4 linked regions of the Homo sapiens genome follow. The protein of the gene in region 3 interacts with the protein of the main gene of each other region in a pairwise test. Each region holds a gene or a part of one and is shown on either strand. Other genes may lie near its edges.

Region 1 (3,634 bases), on a different chromosome or scaffold from region 3:
CCGGGCGGGTGCAGGTGGAGGATGGACACAGGGACACACAGGCTGCGGAAGCGAGCAGGCAGCGGGCAGGGGTGGAGAGAGGCGCAAAGGGGTGCTCACAGACGGCACGGAGCCGGCCCGGTGGGCACCGGGCACCTCCTGTGGGGGTCGCAGGCGTGCGGGAAGGGTCGGCGCAGGCCACAGGGCTCGAAGCGGGCGGTCACCGTGGAGGCTGGAGCTGCCAGCCTTGCCGAGGCGGCCCCGAGTGGAGCGCGAGCCGGGGCGGGAGCGAGCAGGGCTGGGCGTGCGGGGCGTGCAGGGCGCGCGGCCAGGGCCTTGGAGCTGGAGCTCTTGTGCCGGCCGGCATGGGACAGAGTCGTTACCTGCTCGGGGCCCGTGAACGCTCAGCCAAAAGGCCTTCTCGGCCACGCCTATGAAATTGGTGGCTCGACAGAGGTACTCGCCCCCGTCCCGCTCCGACACATTGGCCAGGCGGAGGCGCACGTCGGCCTCCACACTCTCACTGATCCAGGACTGCGGGGACAAGAGACCCGGCTCAGGCACGCCCCCGAGGCAGCCCCGCCGGGCACGAGGCAGGATGTGGGAGACCCCCAAGGTACAGATCGAGGCTGGGCTGCGTCAGCCCCAAAGGCTGCCTGGAGGAGGCGTGGAGGCACTTCACGGTGGCTGTGGTTTCACAGGATGCACGTCTCTGCCTCCACCCCAACAACCCAGCCCAGACCCTCAGACAACCTCTGGTCACTGGCCTGCCCTCCCCCGGGCTCTTGCAGAACCTGCACCCTGGACAGGGCCCGAGGCGGCCTCTCTGGGCGGGGTCTGGACTCCACCCTCGCCCTGCGCCTGCTCCCCGCCCCCAAGAGACCGTCTTCTCTCTGAACAGATGTTTCTCTTTGGGCTTTGAGTGTCGCAACCGTCCCAATTCAGTGGCCCCCACCCGGCAGCCATGGGAACAAAGCTAAGGGCTTCAGGAGGCGGGCAGACAGTGAGCTCGGGCCCCACTGCACACAGCTGACGAGAGCCAATCGGCCAGGTCGGGGCTCAGCCACCGCCTCTGAGGCCCAGAGGGGGCCTGGAGGGCTTGGCCACACTGCCCTCCTGTCCTGGGGCACCACTGCTGCCCAAGCCGCACCCACCCCCAAGAAGCCCGTGGGCAGCTCCATGTCAGGGACTTCAGTGGCTGAGGCTGGCCCTCTGCAGACACGGAAACGGGTCCCAACGCAGCTGCCTATGGCCCTGAGGTGTGGGGTGGCTGAGACTTGGCCCCACAAGCACCCCCACAGCTTCTGCCCCCGAAGCTCCAACCCCTAGACCCAAATCCTCACGCAACCCGCAGCCAAGGGGCACCCTTGGGGCCAGCCCAGGAGCCCCAGCGGCGGCACCCACGTGCACACGGTGGCCCACCTTGAGCACGGTAACGTAGGGTGTGCCGTCCGGGCCCACCTTGCTGCCATTCACCTCCACGTGCTTGAGCCACTGGATGTGGGGCTGTGCGTCACTGTACACCTTGCAGTGGAACTCCACGTCGCTGCCCAGCACCGCCGTCTGGTTGGCCGGCAGCCCCGCCTGCAGGATGGGCCGGTGCGGGGAGCGCTCTGTGGGGGCAGATGACGCTCAGGGGCCACCCCCTCCCTCACCACCACCGCCACTGCCGCCCCCACCCCCGCGCCGCCCCAGGGCCCTCACCCAGCACGTCCAGCGTGTACGTCTGCCGGATGCTGCCAAACTTGTTCTCCACGACGCAGGTGTAGTTGCCGCGGTCCGAGGGCACCACGCTTTCCATGACCAGGCTCCACTGCTGATGCCGCAGCTGCACCGGGACGCGGGCGGGTGAGTGAGCGGAGGCAGCAACCACCGCGCCTGCCAGGCCCAGAGCCACCCCGCCGCGCCCACCTTGATGCCTCCAATGCGGTGCTCGCCGCGGAACTCCCTGCCGTTCTTCAGCCAGGAGATGGAGGGAGTGGGGTTGCCAGCGGCTGGGCAGCGGAAGCGGACGGTGTTGGCGGCCGGCACGGCCAGCAGCTTCTTGTCCATCCGCTCGGGCCGTGTCCAGTAAGGGGCCCCTGCGGGCCGAGGTGCGTGTGAAGGCCATGACCCGAGTGGGAGCAGAGGCCCCTCTGAACAACCCCCTTCCCAGAGCTGCCCCTGCCCATCCCCAGCCTCAGTTTCCCGTCCTGTGTAGGAAGAGGGCGGGATGAGGTTCCCAGGAGCCTCCACATCTTGTCCCCTCCCCGGGGCTTTCTCAGAGCTGGGCCGTGTGTCCCCTCCCCTCCCCTCCAGGGTGCTCTGCCCGGACCTGTGAAGTCACAGGGCACAGGGCATTGTCCAGGGGAGCCCACCTGCCCAGAGAGGCGTGCCAGGGCCAGGCCCACCAACGGGGAGACTGAAGACCCAGGGGGCAGGCCCATCTAGTGGACAAGCCAGGACCTGGGAGCAGTTTACCAGGAGAGGAGCCCAGTCGCCTGCAGAGCCAGGAGCCTTGGAGGCAGCTGGGCAGCATGGGCCCACGGAAATCAAGACCCTACACCACCCTCTGCAGAGCTCCAAGTCTGGCGGGCACCCAGAGACGGTGGCACCCTGGAGGCCCTGCCTCCTCCCATCTCGATGTCCAGGGCTCCCACCACCCCTCTCACAGCCCAACTGGTTTTTCTCCTTCCTCAGGGCTGGTGCTGCCTTCCTGCCGGGACTCCAGGCAAGGATGGGCTGGCATTCCCCAGGAGGGAAGCAGCCCTCCCCTCAGTGAGCTCACTGCCAGCCCCCTCCAGGCACACGCCCATCAGGGGCACTGAGGCCCAGCAAGCAGCAGTGTGGACACAGGCTGGAAAGAGGCACCCCACGGTGCTGAGCTCCCTCCCAGGCCTCCTGGAGACCCCCAGGGTGAGTTCCCCCAGCTGTTTCTCTCATGGACTCAGCCTCCCTTCCTCACCTGCTTACCCCACTGGCCCAGGGACCCAGCGCACACACCATCAGTCCGCAAGTCGTAACTGCCCCCCATGTCTGTGCCACGATGACCCTCACCTGCACGCACTCCCCTCAGAGCTCCCTCCAAAACCAGAAGCCCCACCTCCCCACCCTACAACTTGGCAAAGTCCACCTGCCACCGTTCCAGGCCGGGACGCCAGGCATCGTCCCCGACTGCTCTCTCACAGCCGCAGCCCACCCACCAGCCACCCTCCTGCCAGCCACCCTGCCCGCCACTGGTTGTGGCAGGTGCCCCGGCGCCCTCACCCCGGGTCCATCCACCCCACGGCAGCCACCTGAGTGCCCTGCCCTGCTGCGCTAATGTCTGCGGGGTCCACCTCACCTATAGCCAACACCAGAGCCCCACAGGCCAGCCCTGGCCTCCTCCTGCTCCTGGAACCCCCAGGGCCCTGTGCCTCAGTCTCCCCATCAGCAACACGGTGTCCCCTTGCACCCCAGCCCTGCCACCAGGGTGGGGCATCTAGAGCCATGTCAGTGACCCAGCCCCTCCTGTATCCTGAGGGGACCAGACCTTCGGGGTGACCCCAGGGAGGTTGTTCCGGGGCCTTAGTCCCTCAGCTGCCTGTGAAGGGCAGGGCTTGGCGGTGGCAGCGGGCCCCACCCCGGCTGGCCTGAACCCTGGACCCTGCTCCTACCTGTGTCCACACCTGTGTCC
Region 2 (3,634 bases), on a different chromosome or scaffold from region 3:
CCTGAGGCAATTTTATGGGGTGTTGGAATGCTCTTGACCTTCATCGTGGTGGCAATGACATACTACATACATTTGTGAAAACTCACGGGAATGGCAGGCCACAGTGGCTCACTCCTGTAATCCCAGAACTTTGGGAGGCTGAGGTGGGTGGATCACCTGAGGTTAGGAGTTTGAGACCAGCCTGGCCAACATGCTGAAACCCTGTCTCTACTAAAAATACAAAAAAAAATTAGCTGGGCGTGGTGGTGGGCACCTATAATCCCAGCTACTTGGGAGACTGAGGCTGGAGAATCGCTTGAACCTGGGAGGCAGAGGTTGCAGTGAGCCGAGATCGTGCCACTGCACTCCAGACTGGGCAAAAGAGCAAAACTCCATCTTAAAGAAAAAAAAAAGAAAACTCGGCTGGGTGTGGTGGCTCACACCTGTAATCCCAGCACTTTGGGAGGCCAAGGCAGGTGGATCACGAGGTCAGGAGATCGAGACCATCCTGGCTAACACAGTGAAACCCCATCTCTACTAAAAATACAAAAAAATTAGCTGGGCATGGTGGCACATGCCTGTAGTCCCAGCTACTCGGGAGGCTGAGGCAGGAGAATGGCGTGAACCTGGGAGGCAGAGCTTGCAGTAGCCCCCCCGAGACTGCACCACTGCACTCCAGCCTGGGCGACAGAGCAAGACTCCATCTAAAAAAAAAAAAAGAAAAGAAAAAGAAGAAAACTCATGGGACTGTACACTGAAAAAGGTGGATCTGGTGCAGGTAAATTACACCTTAATAAAATAAAATCAACTGGCAGCTCTGTGTGCTGGTATATGAGCAGTCTTTCTGAAGGACATGTGGCTGGAAAGTGGCTGCCTCAGGAGGAGAAGTGATGAAAATGTACAATTGTGATGGCTGCATAATTCTGTGACTACACTAAAAACCACTTTAAATGGGTGAACTGTGTAGTATGTGCATTAAATCTCAATAAAACTGTTGTAAAAATAATAAAAATAGACCAGGCGCAGTGGCTCACATCTGTAGTCCCAGCACTTTGGGAGGCCAGTTTGAGACCAGCCTGGCCAACATAGCGAAACCCCATCTCTACTAAAAATACAAAAATTAGCCAGGCATGGTGGTGGGCGCCTGTAATCCCAGCTACTCAGGAGGCTGAGGCAGGAGAATCACTTGAACCTGGGAGGCGGAGGTTGCAGTGAGCCAAGATCGCACCACTGCACTCCAGCCTGGGTGACAGAGCGAGACTCCATCTCAAATAATAATAATAATAATAATAATAATAATAATAAATTTCAGATGGACTAAAGGAAAAACAGAAATAAAACAATAAAAGAATTAAAAGAATTTCTTTTTTTGAGACAGAGTCTTGCTCTGTCGCCTAGGCTGGAGTGCAATGGCGCGATCTCGGCTCACTGCAAGCTCTGCCTCCTGGGTTCAAGCGATTCTCCTTCCTCAGTCTCCCAAGTAACTGGGACTACAAGTGTGTGCCACCACACCCGGCTAATTTTTTGTATTTTTAGTAGAGACGGGGTTTCACCGTGTTAGCCAGGATGGTCTCCAACTCCTGACTTCGTGATCCACCCACCTCGCCCTCCTAAAGTGCTGGGATTACAGGAGTGAGCCACCACGCCCAGCCAAGAATTTCTTAATTAAAAAAAAAAAAAAGAATTTCTTTAAATGGACACAAAATGCAAGAGCCATAAGCAAAAAAACTGATAAATTTCACAAAATCATCATTTTAAACGTCCATACAAGTTACAGATTTGATGACAGTATCAGTGCAGAAACGATGGCCTGACCACTAGCAGGGGCATAGGCAACTGCCAGCCATCTCCTGACCTGACCTGGCCTGGCCTGCACTGATGGGTTACAAGTAGATGAACCGTGCAGCTAAGCAGGAGTCAAAAAATCCACAACTGTTGGGTTAACTGGAGACTTCATTTGGGAACCAAAAACTTTAGTTAATAATTTTCCTGGGCTTTGCCACAGTATCACTCCTGAAAAGTGTGGATCTTTGCTACAAAACAACAACAAAAATTCCAGCCTGGACAACATAGCAAGACCCCGCCTCCACAAAATATAAAAAAATTAGCCGTGAGGTAGTTATGATAGCACCACCACACTCTAGCCTGGGTGACACAGCATGACCCTGTCTTAAAAAAAAAAAAAAAAAAAAGAAAAGATCTCTAAGAAACCTTGTTAAATGAAAACAGAGACAGGGCAGAGGAGAGGGGAATTTGGGTTAGGGTAGCCAGGAAAGGCCCCCTGCGAGCATGTCACCAGTGTAAAACAGAAGGAGGATGAAGAGGAAGAGCATTCTAAACAGAAGGAATAGCAGGTGCCAAGTCCTTGAATGGGGCTGTGCTGAGCAACACCATGAAGGCAGCAGTCCAGGGCCTCAGCAACACTTCCAGTAACTCCAGGGCTATAGACCAGAGGCCGAGTGCTATGACCTGAATGTCTGTGGCCCCCTGAAATTCATATGTTGAAATCCTAACCACCAATGTGATGGTATTAGGGGTGGGGCCTCTGCAAGGTGATTAGGTCATGAGGGGTGGCGCCCCCACTGGGATTAGTGCCCTTATACAAGAGCTCCCAGGGTTCCTCCCCTTTCTGCCATGTGAGGACACAGCAAGAAGGCACCACCTAGGAGTTAGGAAGCAAGCCCTCCCCAGACACCAAATTGGCTGGTGCCTGGATCTTGGACTTCCCTGCCTCCAGAGCTGTGAAAAATGAACTTCTGTTGTTTGTAAGCCACGCAGTCTATGGCATACTGTTAGAAAAACCCAAACAGACCGAGACACCAGGTAGCCCCACTCACCCCCTCACTGTGCTGCACCACACTGCCAATGTTATGCAGTGACTGGAAGTTCTGGGTGTTCACAGAGCCGAACTCCACAATCTCATCATCCACTTGCAGACCCTGGAGAGGGAAGGAAAAATGGAAAATCAGGCTAGAGGTTCAGTGTGCTCCTGGTGGTCTCTAACCTTCAATACCCAATTTAATGCCAAGGTCACGAGCTTGTTTTCTACAGGGTAGGCTCAGAACAAAGAGGTCAGGGATGTAGACACCTCATGCAGGAAGGGGCAGTGGGTAACGGGGCCACCTCCTCCTGGGGTTCCTTTGAGGGCAGCTCTAGTAAAGATGACCAGGTCTGCCCAATGTCTGAGAGCTGGCAGTTACCAGACACTGTGAAGGCCTTGAGGAGCATGGGAAAGGCCAAATGCTGCTCTCTGCGGTCCTAACCCAGGTTCAAGGGTAAGAGAAGGCAAGCCAGGCTGGGCCCATTTTATTCAGTGATCAACATTTAGACAAGACACTTGCCCTAGAAGCCCCCAGACAAGCAGCCACAGGCACAGGGCGCATCCAAGACTAGAGTGACGCTCTTGTTCTAGGTCCTAAGAAGACAGACCACCACTCATTCACCCCTGTAACAAGTATTTGTTGTGGGCCAACTGGCACTGGGTTAGATGCAGTAGATGGGGTAGTGAATGATAGGGAGCTTCTGTGTAACTTACAGACTTGTGACCATTAAAGAAGACTGGTAGGACCAGGGTTTAGGACCCCATTCCACCTGGCAGGAACTATGTGTCCTGACCAGGGTTTAGGACCCCATTCCACCTGGCAGGAACTATGTG
Region 3 (3,634 bases):
CCATGAAATGTATTGTCTACAGATAGATATGTTCTATCTTCAGAATGGTCATTTGATAGAATTCTTTTTCTCTCTCTTATATAAAGGGATATACTTTCTAGCCTCAAAGTTCTAAGCTAGATTATGTACCTTTTAATAGCTATGTATCTTTCTATAGCTACCAGGTAGTTTTAATAAATCTGAAGGCTTCCATCATGTCAAGAATTATGAAATTAAACTATGTGGATCTAATTTCCAATGTCCAAAATTTCATCAATTATTTTTTAAAGGAAAAGCTAATAATAAAATCCAATATATAAAGTGCTTATGATATGTCAGACATAACATTTATATTAGGATAAATGGATACAAAGATTTTTCTACAAATTTGATAATAAACTGATAATTTTTTTTTTTTTTTTTTTTTTTTTTTTTTGAGACAGAGTTTCACTCTGTCACCCAGGCTGGAGTACTGTGGCCTGATCATCGCTCACTGCAACCTTCACCTCCTGGGCTCGACCAGTCCTCCCACCTCAACCTCCTGAGTAGCTGGGACTGCTTTTTTTTTTTTTTTTTTTTTTGGAGACAGACTCTCGCTCTGTCACCCAGGCTGGAGTGCAATGGGGCGATCTCAGCCCACTGCAACCTCACCTCCTGGGTTCAAGCAATTCTCCTGCCTCAGCCTCCTGAGTAACTGGGATTACAGGCACACGCCACCACGCCCAGCTAATTTTTGTATCTTTACTAGAGATGGTGTTTCGCTACGTTGGTCAGGCTGGTCTCAATGCTCAGACCTCATGATCTGCCCAGCTGGGCCTCCCAAAGTGCTGGGATTACAGGCAGAAGCCACCATGCCTGGCCTATTTTTTCAAATAATTCTACTGTACACAGAAATACTAAAAGACATAAAAAATATTGTCCTCAATTTCTAAAGTTTTCTTGAATAAATGAAAAACCTTACTGCATTTAACAAACTCTCTAAAATATAGCTAGTCTGACAATGTGTTAGTTGATGATATATTAGTTACTTGAATAAAATGAGTATTTGTGTTATTTAAAAATATCTCAATTTAAGGTTTCTAAGAGATTTTATAATTTCCAAATGCTATGTTATCTTCTGAGCGGATCTGTATAATTTATGAAAAAAGATTTTTCAAATACTTCTAAGGAGAAAGAATTTGACACTGCATTACCCATGCTACCTAGTTTCTATTTGAAGTGGAAAATGTATTTGGACTCTTGATATCACTTTCACAGAATTTGGAGTGGGGAAAGGTAAAACTGGAGGAAGGCTTTATGTGCATTCTTTCATTCTGTCATCTATCCTCTTCAATTATCAAAACTATTTTAGTTGCCTCAGTCTCAGCAATAAAGTGAGAGAAAAAAATAATTTTTAGAGCAGCTTCATACATAATTATAGCTCATTTATTGCCAACAGTCTTAATATGACCATTACAAAAAATGTCTTCATAAAACTACCGCAAGATCACATTCATAAGAATTTAAATATATGAATGACTGATCTACTCAAAAAAACACAGAATAGTACAGGTGTATACCAAATGGAATTTGGCAGATAGCCTTATTTTCCAGTAGTCATTTTCTTAGAGTTTGTGATAGAGAAACATGTTTGTTCCTGACAATATTTTCAAATTTCATATTTCATTTAAAATGTTCTATATATTTTGACTATCAAATATGCAATGTTCAGTTCTTCATTTAATAAACATTGGTTTCTTTATAAACCCCCTTTACCAAATATTACCTCCATTAACGTTCTCTGAATCTCTCTGTCAGCTGAAGTACCCTCAGAAAACCGACGACCACCTAAGATAGTAGATTTGGAAATTTATATGCATTACTCTTTTCCTCTACAACCATCATTTAAGAAAACAGAACATAACAGTCTGTGGCTTAAAACATTAAGATGAAAATTAAAGAGCAAGAATTATGCTGACAAAGTTAGACTTGATTTTGGTGTAACATTTCTCATTTTGTTAAAGTGAAAGGTTATTTATTGAGACGGAGTCTCGCTCTGTCGCCAGGCTGGAGTGCAGTGGTGTGATCTCGGCTCACTGCAACCTACGTCTCCTGGGTTCAAGCGATTCTCGTGCCTCAGCCTCCTCAGTAGCTGGGATTACAGGCATGTGCCACCACATCCAGCTAATTTTTGTATTTTTAGTAGAGACAGGGTTTCACCATGTTGGCCAGATGGTCTCGATCTCCTGACCTGGTGATCTGCCCACCTTGGCCTCTCAAAGTGCTGGGATTACAGGCATGAGCCACCACACCCGGCCATGAAAGGTTATTTATTAAAATTGGTTAAACTAACATCTGATTCATTGTGGTATCTACTTCATACAAGTCACAATTACAGATTAAGAGAGGGAAAAAGGTTCTTTTACATTTAAAAAAAAGTCCTAAAACTTTCAACAAGGGTGTTATTCTTACCAATAGCATCTATTTCATCCATAAAAATGATGCATGGTTGATGATCTCTAGCATAATTAAACATTTCTCTGATCAAACGAGCACTTTCACCAATGTACTTGTCTACAATAGAACTAGATACAACCTGATTAAAGGAAAAACAGTAAGGTAAATATAAGATAATTCAAGTAAAATTAAATTTCAATAAGTACAAAATAATCTTCCCTTTACCTTTAAGAAATTGCAGTCCAGCTGGCTAGCAACGGCTCGTGCCAAGAGTGTTTTTCCCGTACCTAAGAATGACAAAAGAAGTCTTAATTAGATGGTAAGGTAGAAAAAAATTTGTTTTGAGACAGGCAATCACTCTGTCACCTAGGCTGGAGTGTGGCGAGATCACAGCTCACTGCAACCTTGACCTCCCAGACCTAAGCGATTTTCCCACCTCAGCCTCCCAAGTAGCTGGGATGACAGGCATGTGCCATCACGCACAGCTAAGTTTTTTGTTTGTCTGTTTGTTTTTCAGAGACGGGGTCTCTCTGTGTTGCGCAGGCTGGTCTTGAACTCTTGGGCTCAGGTGATCCTGCCACTTCAGCCTCCCAAAGTGCTGGGATTACAGGCAGGAGCCACCGCACCCGGCCTATGTGAAACAAATTTTTAAAATCCTTTTAAGAATATAATCGTTTGGCAAGTAAATTTTCCAAAATGAAAGCTAAATCCTAAATAGAATTTTCATTTAAAATTCCAAAGTACTTGGCCAGGTGTGGTGGCTCACACCTGTAATCCCAGCACTTTGGGAGGCTGAGGCGGGCAGATCACAGGGTCAGGAGATCGAAACACAGTGAAACCCCGTCTCTACTAAAAATACAAAAAATTAGCTGAGCGTGGTGGCACATGCCTGTAGTCCCACCTACTGGGGAGGCTGAGGCAGGAGAATCGCTTGAATCCGGGAGGTGGGGGTTGCAGTGAGCTTATAATCTCGCCACTGCACTCCAGCCTGGGTGACAGAGCAAGACTCTGTCTCAAAAAAAAAAAAAAAAAAAAAATTCCAAAGTACTTCTGCTGTCAACATTAAAATTTTAATCAAAATGTTATAATTTTTAAAATCTATTTTAAATTGACAAATAAATTGTATATTTATGGGTTAAATTATGATACATGTATATATTGAAGAATGATTAAATCAGGCAAATCAACATATCCATCACCTCACATGCTTAGCATTACT
Region 4 (3,634 bases), on a different chromosome or scaffold from region 3:
CCTCCCCCCACCCCATGACAGGCCCCGGTGTTCCCCTTCATGTGTCCATGTGTTCTCATTGTTCAGTTCCCATCTATGAGTGAGAACATGCAGTGTTTGGTTTTTTGTCCTTGTGATAGTTTGCTGAGAATGATGGTTTCCAGCTTCATCCATGTCCCTACAAAGGACATGAACTCATCCTTTTTTTGGCTGCATAGTATTCCATGGTGTATATGTACCACATTTGCTTAATCCAGTCTATCATTGATGGACATTTGGGTTGGTTCCAAGTCTTTGCTATTGTGAATAGTGTGGCAATAAACATACGTGTGCATGTGTCTTTATAGCAGCATGATTTATAATCCTTTGGGTATATACCCAGTAATGGGATGGCAACCACTACACACTCGAGTGTGTGTGTCCATCTGTGTAACTGGCCAACTTCCCTTCTCTTCCATAAATTAGAAAACAAAGTTTCATATTATCCTGGGTTGCTCCAAGTCTTAACTGAGATTTCCCACTTTCTGCTCCCATTTCTGTTGGGAAATTTGCAGGAGGCGCCATAAGCTATCTAGGAGAAGTGAGACACTTGAGGAGATGTGCAATCTTTTTGAATGTGGCTAGGTCACTTACGTGTTCGACTATGTAATACTTGCAACAACTTTGGCTATCACACCCATTACACAGATGAGCAAACTGAGTTTTAAGATCATTTATCCATCTTTCTCAAGGTCATTTTCTACTTTTGATAAATCATAGATCTGGAATCTGAATGTCTTTCTACTTTCCAGTTCTGCCTACTATGAGATTATCATTTTAAATGGAGTGGGGACAGTGAAAGCTGGGGAGGAGGAAGAAGCCAATGGAGAGCATGGAAGGTAGGGAAAGGAAAGGGGAGAATAATTGTTAGACTAGGACTCGGCTGTGCTGGAGCTTTCCTGGCTATGGGAAGCGGCCGCTATGTACATTTCTTTAGCATTACTGTTGCCTTCCAGGCGACTCTGCCATCAGCTTTGATAAGTCAGGCCTCAGTGAAAAATGACTTCCCCCAAAGAAAGGGAAATTCATTTTGCAAAAGGAAGGAAGGCAACGTTTATTTAAAGAAATATCAGACATGCTAATTCAGGCAAAGTGCATGAGCTTAACTGAGCCTTCGCATCAGTCCAGTGGCAGACGTGTGACTCACAACTTTGTACCTTAGTTTGGGAGGCCAAGTTGTGATTTGCACACCTGCCACTGGCCTGATCAGTCTAGTCATGGAAGTCATCAGAGCAGAAGCATAATAGTCAAATAAAAATGGCAAAGATAGTCTAATATTTACAATCATTTCTTGTTTAGTGTTCCACATGTGCTTCTAGAACAGAACTGATGATTACTCATCCTTGAAGTGTTTTTCTAGAGTCTGGCACATGCTAGGCATTGGAGAAATTAAGAACGAGGAACAGCTGCTGCCCTCAGGAGCCCACAGTCTCTGGTGTGGGTATTACCATTATCTGTTTTCATCTGTCTCCCCCTACTAGACCCTATGAGCTTCCTATGGTGTAAACAATGTGTCCCTTCCTCTTTGTTTCTGAACTCATGCCTAGCATGAGAGTAGCACATAGCAGGTGTTCAGTAATTACTGTTGACTGGCTGAACTCTCTGCATTGACGGGATGCTCCAGGGAACCCAGAGGCCAGGTGAGTGGCCAGTCCTCTGATGGCTCTATGGTATGCATGAAAGGCCTCGCATGAATGGTCTTGTGTAGGGGTAGACTGAGGAAGGAGTGAGTCCCGTGCCTGCACGGACATGACCCAGAAATGGGTGTACAGGCTGATGGGGCAATTCCCCAAATGAACCTTTGTTGGAAGCAGGAGTCAGAGCCACAGGAAGCCTGGCAAGACCTGCAGGCACCATGCTTCCTGCACAGCCTGCAGAACCATGAGCCAAAATAAACCTCTTTTCTTTATCAGTTACCCAGCCTCAGGTATTCCTTTACAGCAATGCAAACGAACTAATAGACAGCCTTCACCTCTTCATTGCAGGTTGTTACAGAGACCAGGGTAACTAGCATGCAACATGCTGGGAGTCCAGGGGGACTTCTAGGGGCTCTGCTGGCTGCTCCTTTCAGTGCAGCTTCTAGCAGTCCCACCCTGACCCTGAGGCTCTGGATCTGCTGTCCTGGTCTCTTACGCTTATTAAATTAGGGGGTTCTGTATTCCTGGCCTTTCCTCACTAGTGGTGCCTGGTGGGCACCTCCATGGTGCAGTTGGTCTGGGTGTTGTGTGACTGCATTTCTCTTTATCAGTCCCTTTCAATTTCTGGGTTCTGGCTGAGTTCTGGATTGGAGCAGTCCCTACTAAGATCACTGGATAAGTGAGGCGCTCCACTTAAAAGGAACTAAAAAGGATTTAACTTTGTGCATGAAATACAAAGATAATAACTGTCATATTTGGGTAGTTGCCTTGGTAAGTGAAACTTGTATAGTGTCATTTAAAAGCCTAGGTTTTGCCACCGTGAAGTGAATTAATTCAGGGAATAAGATTGAAACATTTTGGACAATTCTCTGAGTCATCCTTTCGTTTTTCTAAGTTCCCCTAGTCATAAAGCCTAATCTCTCCAGTGCTTCTCTCAATAAATCTGTCGGTCTGTGGAAAATAAAAGGTAATAAAGGAGCAGGGGCAGAAGGGAAAAGGCAGGGTCTCAGGCCTACCTTCTTGGCTAAGAGCAGTGTGTCCTGCTTGCAGCCCTGAGTTTTGCTGCAGAGCCTGTCTGTGAGCCTGGAGACCTGCTCATAGATGAAATCCTTCTCCAGCAGCTTCTCCTCCTTCTTGGCCAGTTGTAGTTCCAGCTATGTTTGAAAATTGGTTCAAGAGGAATAAAAAAAAAGTCATCTAAGACAAAATCTTATTTCCTAATTAGAGCAGTATCTCCCCCTACCCCCCACAAAATACCTCTGGAAAGTGTTTAGAGCTGGGTTAAGACTTTCCCTGCCCCAGCCCCTGCAGATACCTCTGGGAGTTCGAGTATGGCCCCCTCAGCTCTATCTAACATCCACATCACCATTCTTCTGATGTGCTCCCATCAGGAAGACAAATTAATCCATTTAAGATGCCAAAATTACTCCTTTGGGTCATGAGAGAAATGTGCCTTTGGAATCTCGAAACCACTGGATTGGAACTTCTTTTGGCAAGTGTCTAAATCAAGCTTAGAATGTATGACTAGATTACAACAAAAGGACTATATTAGTGACTAGAATAATGAAGGATAGGTCTGTCAGCATAACATGAAACAGTACCATAGGTATCTGTGAAACTACATCAACGAGGAGCTAACAGATGCAATTTTAAGCAATAATGTTTACCTTGTCTAATTTTTGGATCATTTCTTTTTCGGTCAGATCTTTCCCTGGAAGGAAGCGAGCTCTATTCTCACCATCAGGCTTTACGAACTGTTTCTCCAGGTCTTTAATTCTGTCTGTACACTGTGAAAACTATTAAGAAAAAAACATTAACTTTAAAATGAACGCTCTAGCTCAGTTAATCTGAAAATCACATTGCCTAGGGTCTTGAGAGTTTTTTAGTAGGACCAACCCAGACAAGGGTAGAAGAGAACTCTGTTTTCTTAACACCCCATCAGCTGGGACCTGGTTAAGTGACGTTTCTGCTCATTTATG

What was found.
Region 1: the proteins of PSMC6 (region 3) and FGFR3 interact in binary tests that used the Homo sapiens proteins (3 or more experiments, as listed by UniProt).
Region 2: the proteins of PSMC6 (region 3) and PSMD9 interact in binary tests that used the Homo sapiens proteins (3 or more experiments, as listed by UniProt).
Region 4: the proteins of PSMC6 (region 3) and CCDC146 interact in binary tests that used the Homo sapiens proteins (3 or more experiments, as listed by UniProt).

The regions. Positions count from the first base shown.
Region 1 is NC_000004.12:1,799,793-1,803,426, reverse strand, and holds part of FGFR3 (fibroblast growth factor receptor 3 isoform 1 precursor), read right to left. Parts: coding exon 3,615-3,634; intron 2,061-3,614; coding exon 1,891-2,060; intron 1,808-1,890; coding exon 1,684-1,807; intron 1,593-1,683; coding exon 1,402-1,592; intron 514-1,401; coding exon of another isoform or gene 363-513; intron 1-362.
Region 2 is NC_000012.12:121,902,290-121,905,923, reverse strand, and holds part of PSMD9 (26S proteasome non-ATPase regulatory subunit 9), read right to left. Parts: intron 2,919-3,634; coding exon 2,817-2,918; intron 1-2,816. UniProt on the Homo sapiens protein: Acts as a chaperone during the assembly of the 26S proteasome, specifically of the base subcomplex of the PA700/19S regulatory complex (RC).
Region 3 is NC_000014.9:52,717,149-52,720,782, reverse strand, and holds part of PSMC6 (26S proteasome regulatory subunit 10B), read right to left. Parts: intron 2,703-3,634; coding exon 2,641-2,702; intron 2,555-2,640; coding exon 2,431-2,554; intron 1,807-2,430; coding exon 1,745-1,806; intron 1-1,744. UniProt on the Homo sapiens protein: Component of the 26S proteasome, a multiprotein complex involved in the ATP-dependent degradation of ubiquitinated proteins.
Region 4 is NC_000007.14:77,286,615-77,290,248, reverse strand, and holds part of CCDC146 (coiled-coil domain-containing protein 146), read right to left. Parts: intron 3,452-3,634; coding exon 3,323-3,451; intron 2,810-3,322; coding exon 2,672-2,809; intron 1-2,671. UniProt on the Homo sapiens protein: Essential for sperm flagellum biogenesis and male fertility.